Regions from separate parts of the Homo sapiens genome. Here all the other regions are reported to be linked to region 1. The links are microRNA targets in miRTarBase. Many come from high-throughput screens and were not tested one by one. Region 1 holds a microRNA gene; each other region holds the end of a gene's coding sequence.
What was found. Region 1 holds the annotated microRNA hsa-miR-6778-3p (UGCCUCCCUGACAUUCCACAG, at 1,668-1,688, shown strand). A microRNA usually pairs through its seed, bases 2 to 8, with sites in the 3' UTR of a target mRNA and lowers its output. Matches are read on the target gene's strand: a 7mer-m8 pairs with bases 2 to 8, a 7mer-A1 pairs with bases 2 to 7 and ends in A, and an 8mer does both.

Region 1 (3,252 bases):
TCTCTACAAAAATATAAGAATTAGCCGGGTGTGGTGGCACTGCCTGTGGTCCCAGCTATTCAGCAGGCTGAGTGGGAGAATCGCTTGAGCCTGGGAGGTAGAGGTTGCAATGAGCCGAGATGGCACCACCGCACTCCAGCCTGGGTGACAGAGTGAGACTCTGTCTCAAAAAAGAAGTGAGATCATGCAGTATTTGTCTGTCTGAGCCTGGCGTATTTCACTTAGCATAAGGTCCTCCAAGTTCATCGGTGTTGTTGCAAATGACAGAATTTCTTTTTTCAGACTGATTATTATTACATTGTTTATATATATATGTGTCACATTTCCTTTGTCCATTCATCTGTTGATGGACATGGCTTTATTCCATAACTTGGCTATTGTGAATAGTGCTGCAGTGAACATGGGAGTGCACATGTCTCTTTGACATACTGATTTCAAGTTCTTAAGATATAGATTCACAAGTGGGATTGCTGAATATGGAATTGATTTGTGTGGGTGAGGCGGGCATCCAGATAACATTTTTGTCCAAATGGATGCCCAGTTGACCTAGTGCCATTGATTGAAAAGGTCATCCTCTCCCCACTGCACTGCAGCGTCACCACTGGCATGGATCCAATGACCTGTGTTGTGTGTGGTTCTGCTTCTGGTTAAGCCAGATGCTCTGCCCTTCCATGAATGCGTGCTGCCTTAATTACTATAATTTGTCAAGCATTTTGTGACACAAAATACACAACGCAATGATGTTTTGTGTAAAGGTTTGGTATGATTTTCCTTTTATGGTTTTTGTTATTTACATTTCATTTTCTATCTTTCTTGCTTTTATATACTTTTTGGCTTTTTTTTTTTTTTTTTTTCAGATGGAGTCTCGCTCTGTTGCCCAGGCTGGAGTGCTGGAGTGCAGTGGCACAATCTCGGCTCACTGCAAGCTCCACCTCCCGGGTTCACGCCATTCTCCTGCCTCAGCCTCCCAAGTAGCTGGGATTACAGGCGCCCGCCACCATATCTGGCTAATTTTTTGCATTTTTAGTAGAGACGGGGTTTCACCGTGTTAGCCAGGATGGTCTCGATCTCCTGACCTCATGATCTGCCCGTCTCAGCCTCCCAAAGTGCTGGGATTACAGGTGTGAGCCACCGCGCCCAGCCCCTACTTCTTGTTTTTCAATGTTGTATCCAGTGACCTTGCTAAATTTGCTTATTCTAACAGTTGGCCCCTAGCATCTTGATTTTCTAGGTATATTGTGTTGTCTGTGTGTAATGTCAGTTTTTAAATTTCTTCTTTCCTAATCGTTATGCCTTTTGTTTCTTTTTCTTGCCTCATTATACTTGGAATAGAAGTAGTATTAGCAGGCATTTTGGTCTTGTTCCTGAAGGTAACCATTTTGGTTTCCATTGTGTGGTCCCGTCACATTTGTTTCATTCTGCAGGTGCTTTTTGGTTCCTTCTCAGCAGGTAGTGCCCCAGCAGCAGGGCTCACTACAACCCTGGGACTCCTCAGGGACTCCTGGGTCTGTGAGCCATACTTGGTTGAGCAGGCTGAACACACCAGTATCCATCCTGTCTCACCCTCAAGTCCTCATCTAGGACATCATTCCTCTTGTCATGGTGGGTGGAGCCAGTTCAAGTGGGAGGACAGGAGGCAGGTGTGGTTGGAGGAAGCAGCCTGAACCTGCCTCCCTGACATTCCACAGGTGAACCCAGATACTGGCTACATCAACTATGACCAGCTGGAGGAGAACGCACGCCTCTTCCACCCGAAGCTGATCATCGCAGGTGATGCGCGGGGCGGAAAGTCACCTTGTTCACCAGTAGCCTGGTGCCTCTTACAGAATGAGGATGGAAAGATGTTCGCACCCTGTTGAGCCCACTGCTAGTTTCTGCCCTGGATAACTGAGTTTCTGGGGTCTACATATATTAGTTTCTTTCAGGATACAGATGTGTGTTTGCTGCTTTTTGTGCTATGTAGATTAAGATGTGAGACTGTTCTCAGAGAAGCATCTAGAAATGTCAGGCCCTGACTGCGCTGGCAATAGTAGTTGGGGCCATCTCAACCACCAAGACGTTGAAGAGTTAGAGTGGTTGCCTTTAGCACAGAGGTGCTTTTTGAGGGCATTCTCCATTTTTGCTCTGAGACTTTAAGGGAAGAAATCTCTGGGCTTTCAGATCTGCACATCTAGAGGCCACTGTGAAGCCAACTCAGCTGGCCGGTGGACATCTCTGATGCAGCTGTGTCACCTTTCCTGTCTCAGGAACCAGCTGCTACTCCCGAAACCTGGAATATGCCCGGCTACGGAAGATTGCAGATGAGAACGGGGCGTATCTCATGGCGGACATGGCTCACATCAGCGGGCTGGTGGCGGCTGGCGTGGTGCCCTCCCCATTTGAACACTGCCATGTGGTGACCACCACCACTCACAAGACCCTGCGAGGCTGCCGAGCTGGCATGATCTTCTACAGGAAAGGTGAGCTCCCGAATGTTGGGTACAGATGGGTACCATGGTTTACATTTCTCCTGTGGGGGTTCAGATTCAGTTGAGGGAGCTGGGAAAAACTCTGACCTGGGATCCTTGGAAAATATTAAGATCCCAGTCCCTTAAAGAGCTGCTTAGGAAGGAGCAGTGACAGGCTTTACAGAAAGGATTCCCGGCCAGGTGAGGTGGCTCGCGCCTGTAATCCCAGCACTTTGGGAGGCCGAAGCGGGCAGATCACGAGGTCAGGAGATCAAGACCATCCTGGCTAACACGGTGAAACCCCGTCTCTACTAAAAACACGAAAAATTAGCCGAGTGTGGTGGTGGGCACCTGTAGTCCCAGCTACTCAGGAGGCGAAGGCAGGAGAATGGCGTGAGCCTGGGAGGTGGAGCTTGCAGTGAGCTGAGATTGTGCCACTGTACTCCAGCCTGGGCGACAGAGCGAGATGCCGTCTCAAAAAAAAAAAAAGAAAGAAAGAAAGGAATCCCCAGAAGGAGACTGTCAGCCACAGCTCCTGCTTCACTTTTGTGCATCCAGGTCCTAGGAACATAGGAGGGGGATCAGCAACCACTATGTGTTAGGATGGCGCCGGTTGCTGAACTCGAGAGGCAGGTGTTTGAATGAAAGGAGGGTGCATGGCTGGCTGGGGGCCACTGGGAGGCCTCACAAGGCTGCATTATTCTGGTGAACTTACAGTGATCCATCATGTTTCTCAAAGAGAAAGACTCATAGTAGTCAAACTAGAAGACATGGATGTATAAACATTAATATCATTTTAGTGAAG
Region 2 (3,125 bases), not on the chromosome of region 1:
TTTCTGTGGGATTTTCATTATACCACATAAGTATCCCAAGGCAGAGTGTGGAGAGAATAATTCAAGTACAAAATACAATTAGTTTCTGGGCTGGGCATGGTGGCTCACACCTGTAATCCCAGAGCTTTGGGGGGGCCAAGGCAGGTGGATCACTTGAGGTCAGGAGTTCGAGACCAGCCTGGCCAACATAGTGAAACCCTGTCTCTACTAAAAATACAAAAACTAGCCGGGTGTGGTAACGGGCACCTATAATCCCAGCTACTTGGGAGGCTGAGGCAGGAGAATTGCTTGAACCCGGGAGACAGAGGTTGCAGTGAGCCGAGATCACGCCACTGCACTCCAGCCTGGGTGACAGAATGAAACTCCATCTCAAACAAACAAACAAAAAAACCAAAATACACTTAGTTTCTGAAAATTATATGTTGTTTGATCCAACAATGGAAATCATTGTTCTAGATCCTTCGATAGCTTAATGGTGCAGTGTTGTTATCTGTTATGAAGTATGCTACTGAGGTAGGATAAAACTATGTTGGCAAGAAATGATTCATTCATACTTATAAAATACATCAAATTTTATTAGTTAAAACATTAAATCTATGATGCATTCTTAAATAGTAGCAAAATGTGATTCCAGCAGTTAATGTAAATCCTAGTAACAAACATGGGATTCTGGTTACTTTGATTAAACTTCTTATGCTCGGCCGGCCGGGCACGGTGGCTCCAGCCCGTAATCCCAGCACTTTGGCAGGCCAAGGTGGGCGGATTATGAGGTCAGGAGTTCGAGACCAGCCTGGCAAACATAGTGAAACTCCATCTCTACTAAAAATACAAACATTAGCCAGGCGTGGTGGTGCATGTCTGTAATCCCAGCTACTTGGGAGGCTGAGGCAGGAGAATCGCTAAAACCCAGGAGGCGGAGGTTGCGGTGAGCTGAGATTGCATCACTGCACTCCAGCCTGGGCAACAGAACAAGACTCCATCTCAAAAAAAAAAAAAAAAATCAATCTTTGCTATGCAACAGCTATTGGCATTTGATGGAGAAGGTAGCCTCCACTTTTCTGCATTATTTGTACCACACATCAGTCCCTAATAAGCTATTACTCTCCTCTAATAAAAATCCGAGTGTCTTCCTGGCTCTATTTCATGGTCTACTGGTAGAGAATTTCTTTCTTTCTTTTTTTGAGTCAGAGTTTCGCTCTTATTGCCCAGACTGGAGTGCAGTGGCATGATCTCGGCTCACCACAACCTCTGCCTCCCGGGTTCAAGCGAGTCTCCTGCCTCAGCCTCCTGAGTAGCTGGGATTACAGGCATGCGCCACCATGCCTGGCTAATTTTGTATTTTTAGTAGAGATGGGGTTTCTCCATGTTGGTCAGGCTGGTCTCGAACTCCCGACCTCAGGTGATCCACCCACCTTGGCCTCCCAAAGTGCTGGCATTACAGGCGTGAGCCACTGTGCCCGGCCAGTAGAGAATTTCTTCCCATACCCACAGTGCTCTTCTGTCAGAAGAAGGGCACCTGCAGTGCAATAAGGATGATGAGTGACATCATAGTTCATCATCCTCTGCCCTTTCCAAGTGCTCTCTAATTCAGACTATATTTAATTTTAAAAGGCAGAGTCTTTTTTCTTCAGGAGCTTGGAGAGAAATAATCCTCACCTAATGAAGTGAGTGAGCCCTTCCATCCTTTGATTCTTTCCCGAACAACACCATGTTAGGCGTATAATCATGTATAAAATCAGCACATTGCAAAGTTCTGGTTGGAAGTTATAAATAGTAGCCTTTTCAATAAATCTTAAATACTTCAACAAAACATTTTATAAGCTGAAAGTAATTGGCCATTTCCAAACATCCTACAACCTTTGATATGTATCATGTAATGAGTTTTAACACATTTGGACTTCTGATTATGCTGAAGTATATAATATCAGAGGGTTATGAGGAAACTAGAGACTGAGTTCTACTCTTCCTATGAATCCTCACCTACAGTTGTGGTCCAGGAGTAATAGTCTCAGCATGCATGTTACGTTTGTGTGACTTCATCAAAGATGTATCTTTTGATGCGTATTGAGCTCTGAGACCTGGATAAAGCTTCTGTCATACATAGTATATTCACAGGATTTGAACTCTGATGTCTGTTAATGCTTAAACTCATCAGGAGTTTGCCACAGTCACTGTATTTGTAAGAATTGTCTCAAGAATGAATTCTCTGATGTTGTGAAAGAATTTGTGGCTGAAAAACTGGCCGCACTCCTTTGTAAGGTTACTTTTTTTTTTTTTTTTTTTTTGGAGATGGAGTTTCACTCCTGTTGCCCAGGCTGGAGTGCAATGGCATGATCTCGCTCACTGCAACCTCCGCCTCCCAGGTTCAAGTGATTCTCCTGCCTCAGCCTCCCGAGTAGCTGGGATTACAGGCGTGCACCACCACACCCAGCTAATTTTTGTATTTTTAGTAGAGACAGCGTTTCACCGTGTTGGCCAGCCTGGTCTCGAACTCGAGACCTCAGGTGATCCCCCCGCCTCGGCCTCCCAAAGTGCTGGGATTACAGGCGTGAGCCACCACGCCCGGCGTCCTTTGTAAGGTTTCTATCCACTATGAATTCTTCGATGTTTTGCAAGGTTTGAATTTTGAGTAAAGACCTTGCCACATTGGTTACATTTGTAAGGTTTGTCTCCAGTATGGACTGCCATATGGGTAGTTAGGGTTGAACGAACACTGAAGGCTTTCCCACACTCATTACACCTATAAGGTTTTTCTCCAGTGTGAATTCTTCTATGATTTGCAAGATGTGAATTTTGAGTGAAGACCTTGCCACATTCATTACATTTGTAAGGTTTTTCTCCAGTATGGATGACCTGATGGGTAGCTAGGTTTGAATGTACACTAAATGCTTTGCCGCACTCATTACACTTATAAGGTTTCTCACCAGTGTGAATTCTCTGATGAATTGCAAGGTACGAATTGTGTCTGAAGACCTTGCCGCAATCATTACATTTGTATGGTTTTTGTCCAGTATGTATTGTCTGATGTATAGTTAGGCTTGAATGAACACTAAAGGCTTTGCCACACTCATTACACTTGTAAGGTTTTTCTCCAGTATGAACTCTCCAATGCCTTGCAAGTTGTG
Region 3 (3,125 bases), not on the chromosome of region 1:
ATAGGGACAACCAAAGAAAAATACACAATTTTATATGTTGTAGATCATATAAAATACAATAAACATAAACTCTTGGGAATGCAGAATAGATTTCAAAATCTTAAAAGAAGCTTTCATAAAAATAAACTTTAGAAATGTGGCTTATATTTACTGCATTTTTTCAGAAAACTTTCTTTTCTCCATTTTAATGCTACCCTGATTATAAATAATGGTCCAAATTTCTAACATCTTATCAATTTTGCTTTCTGGAATTTTAGAAATCACATGTCTAAATGAAGACCTCTTTTTTATACCACCCTACATAAACACAGAATAGATTTTATTTAAATTACCATTTGATTTGGCACCACTATTGTAAATACAATTTTAGTAATAATTAAATGTTATGGGGGAAAAACTAACAGAAAAACCTGCTAACAAGCACAAGTCTTACTATAAGAAAGGATCTTTTATATATGGCTTTTATGATACCCACTGATTTAAAACCTAGTGCTTTAAAAATCTGGTTATAAAAAAAGTAATAACCTAATTTTTTATTAAAAAAGAAAAAAGAATTTTTACCAAAACTTCAATATAGAAGTGAATGTGCTTAGAATGGTAATAGAGGATCTAACTTTTAACCAGGCTATCAACTTCTGGAATATTTACTTTCAATTTGGAAAAATATTGTTATTCAGAACCTGAAATACATTATAAAACTGGAAATGGAATCTTTTAGGTGAATTCTTTCTTTCAAACCCTCATAAATCAGAAAAAATAAGCCAAATTTGAAGGCAAAAGATCTTTACATTTAGGGATAGTTTCTAATGAAAGAAATCAAGATAAGAAAAATCAATTAAAACAATGTGGTTTAAGAAATTATCCTCCTAATGTAGGGGGTGGGAAACAGATATTACATTTTAAAATTTAATGAAGACCTAAAAAATGATAAATGCAGTTTTAAAATATTTGTTGTCATCATTAAGAAAACATTAGGCATGTTGCCAACACACACACAAACATCACTCCACTCACAGTAGGAAATGACTGAAAAACAGCAGAGTTGAACTGCAGCAGGAGACTGCAGATTCCTTTCAGCTTTCTGTCTAAAGTTCCAGAATACTTTCAGCTCTACAGATGCTCATGAAGAAGGGGAGCTAAATGTTTTCAAGGCACTTTTAAATGAGGCATTCTAGGTAAAAGGAAGAAAAGGAGACCCTAATGTTTCCCTACCAAAAAATATATCCATGAGCTAAATCTCAACTTTTTAAAAGGCTAAAATATCTTGAATATTCATTAGAGTTATTTGAAAGAGCAGAAAAGGTATTAAGACCTTAATTTATAACAGTTGATCATAATATTACAAATGATCTTTTAACTAACTACTATTCAGATCATGAATAATACAAAATGTGTCCAAGAGCATTATCTATTTTTATATACTAAAATATGTAGACGTATAAAGAGGTATTCCTAAAAAGTTGCTTGTAGTTCAAATATGCACTAGAGCAATTAGTAATTTTGTAAAATTGAGTCTGTAATATAAATATTTATGTTTTAGATTCATGCTTTAAGATTGAGATTTTATTACTATGAAGGGCACATAGTATCTTTATTGAAAGAAACATTTATTGAAACATTATATAAAATGTTGACTAAATTCTGTAGTGTATTTGGAGTGAACATCATCTTGAATAGAGATTCTAAAATTTCATAATCTTAACCTCCGACGATATGATTATACTTGTTTAAAAAGAACATTATATCCAGATATAAACTTAACAAATGAAATATTACAAAATATGAACATAGATAGTTTTGTTTCCCATAATAATTCCCAGCATTTTCACCCTGTCCTGTTCATACGAGTCAATTCTCTTCTTCAATTCCTGTCCCATCAGCCGTCTGCTGAAAAACACTGCTTTGTCTTGGCTAAGGCTGCACAAGTTCAGTCTCGCACTGGCTCAGCCTCCCCTTTCAGCAACACCATTTCCCTACCAGGGTACAAGCTGTTTCCTGGTGCTCTAGGTGGAGTCTGATTTGGCATTCGTTCCCCATCCCTAGTGCTCTTTAAGCTGGTACCTGAAGTCACAGAAACGCTTTGCTTGCTAATTATTTACACCAGCAGTGCATTTAAAGCAATTTCATAGGTACACCCTGAAAATCTTGGTAAAGATTCTTCATCACTGCCTATGTCAGCACTTTGGGCAGGGGAAATGGAAGAGAATAGGAAACTTTCTCTAAAGCTTTGTCAACACATGTATTATAGAATGGATTCTACTATGTAAGAGTTCTCAATTATAAAATATGGTAAGCATTTACCTTTTAAAACCAACATAAAAGGGATGAAATTAAGCTTTTTATGATGATATTTTTATATGAGTTATCAGAGTGGTATATCAAATATCTACTCTATTTATAAAATGGATAAAACAAGGCACAATGAGGAATGATGTGCAACTATAAAAACTCAGTGTGCTAACAGTAGCACATGAAGAAATCATAATTCACATCAACATGCTTCTGCTAACACTTTCAAAGCAAAAACCTTTTGGAATGCTAGAGGAAAACCACGTCAGACTTCATGTTAAAAACCTCAGATCTTTCAAGGAATTCTCTGCGCACCTGCTTCTCATATGACCAAAGTTGTACATGTATTCAAAGGAAAGGGCTTATTGCTAGGGGGCAATAAAATCAGTAAGAACAGTTATATAATTAAACACATCACTGGCTATGTCATATTTTTAAAAGAAACTTATTCCAAAGTCTTTACAACTTAACTTACTGGGATTCTGATACAAGATACAACCAACAGACTTACAGAATAACTTTTTATACCTATTATTTTACTAAGTTGCTTTGGTTTGCATTTGTCTTCTTTAAAACATGCAGTTCATACATTTGACAGTTTTACTACCATAGTCAATACATTCTGGACCAATGCACTCGCAGCAGGCATTATGAAACCAGCGATATTTGGATGCTCCCATGGACTCACAGGATATTTTACACTGATGTATGGACATGCAGTCATCAAAATAAACCACAGTACACATGTGTTCTGAAAAACAAAAATTTAAGATTTCAGGGCAAGAAAGAAGAAAAACAAAAAAATAAAATGCTTTATTACCTAGTTGAATATTAAC

Region 2: the mRNA of ZNF665 is a reported target of hsa-miR-6778-3p. Seed matches in the 3' UTR shown: 7mer-m8 at 2,522-2,528, 7mer-m8 at 2,387-2,393, 7mer-m8 at 2,355-2,361, 7mer-m8 at 1,417-1,423 and 8mer at 1,250-1,257.
Region 3: the mRNA of TWSG1 is a reported target of hsa-miR-6778-3p. Seed matches in the 3' UTR shown: 7mer-m8 at 1,947-1,953.

What each region holds. Positions count from the first base shown.
Region 1 is chr17:18,339,250-18,342,501 of GRCh38, reverse strand. It overlaps MIR6778 (microRNA 6778), which reads left to right and starts at 1,616; the gene lies at 1,616-1,688. SHMT1 (serine hydroxymethyltransferase 1) reads left to right here. Exons shown (of 12, transcript NM_004169.5): 6 at 1,689-1,770; 7 at 2,247-2,459.
Region 2 is chr19:53,161,870-53,164,994 of GRCh38, forward strand. ZNF665 (zinc finger protein 665) reads right to left here. Exons shown (of 4, transcript NM_024733.5): 4 at 555-3,125. The coding sequence ends at 2,584. Among named protein-coding and RNA genes, the nearest start is that of ZNF347, 4.4 kb to the left of the region's middle.
Region 3 is chr18:9,399,261-9,402,385 of GRCh38, reverse strand. TWSG1 (twisted gastrulation BMP signaling modulator 1) reads right to left here. Exons shown (of 5, transcript NM_020648.6): 5 at 1-3,040. The coding sequence ends at 2,859. Among named protein-coding and RNA genes, the nearest start is that of TWSG1, 66 kb to the right of the region's middle.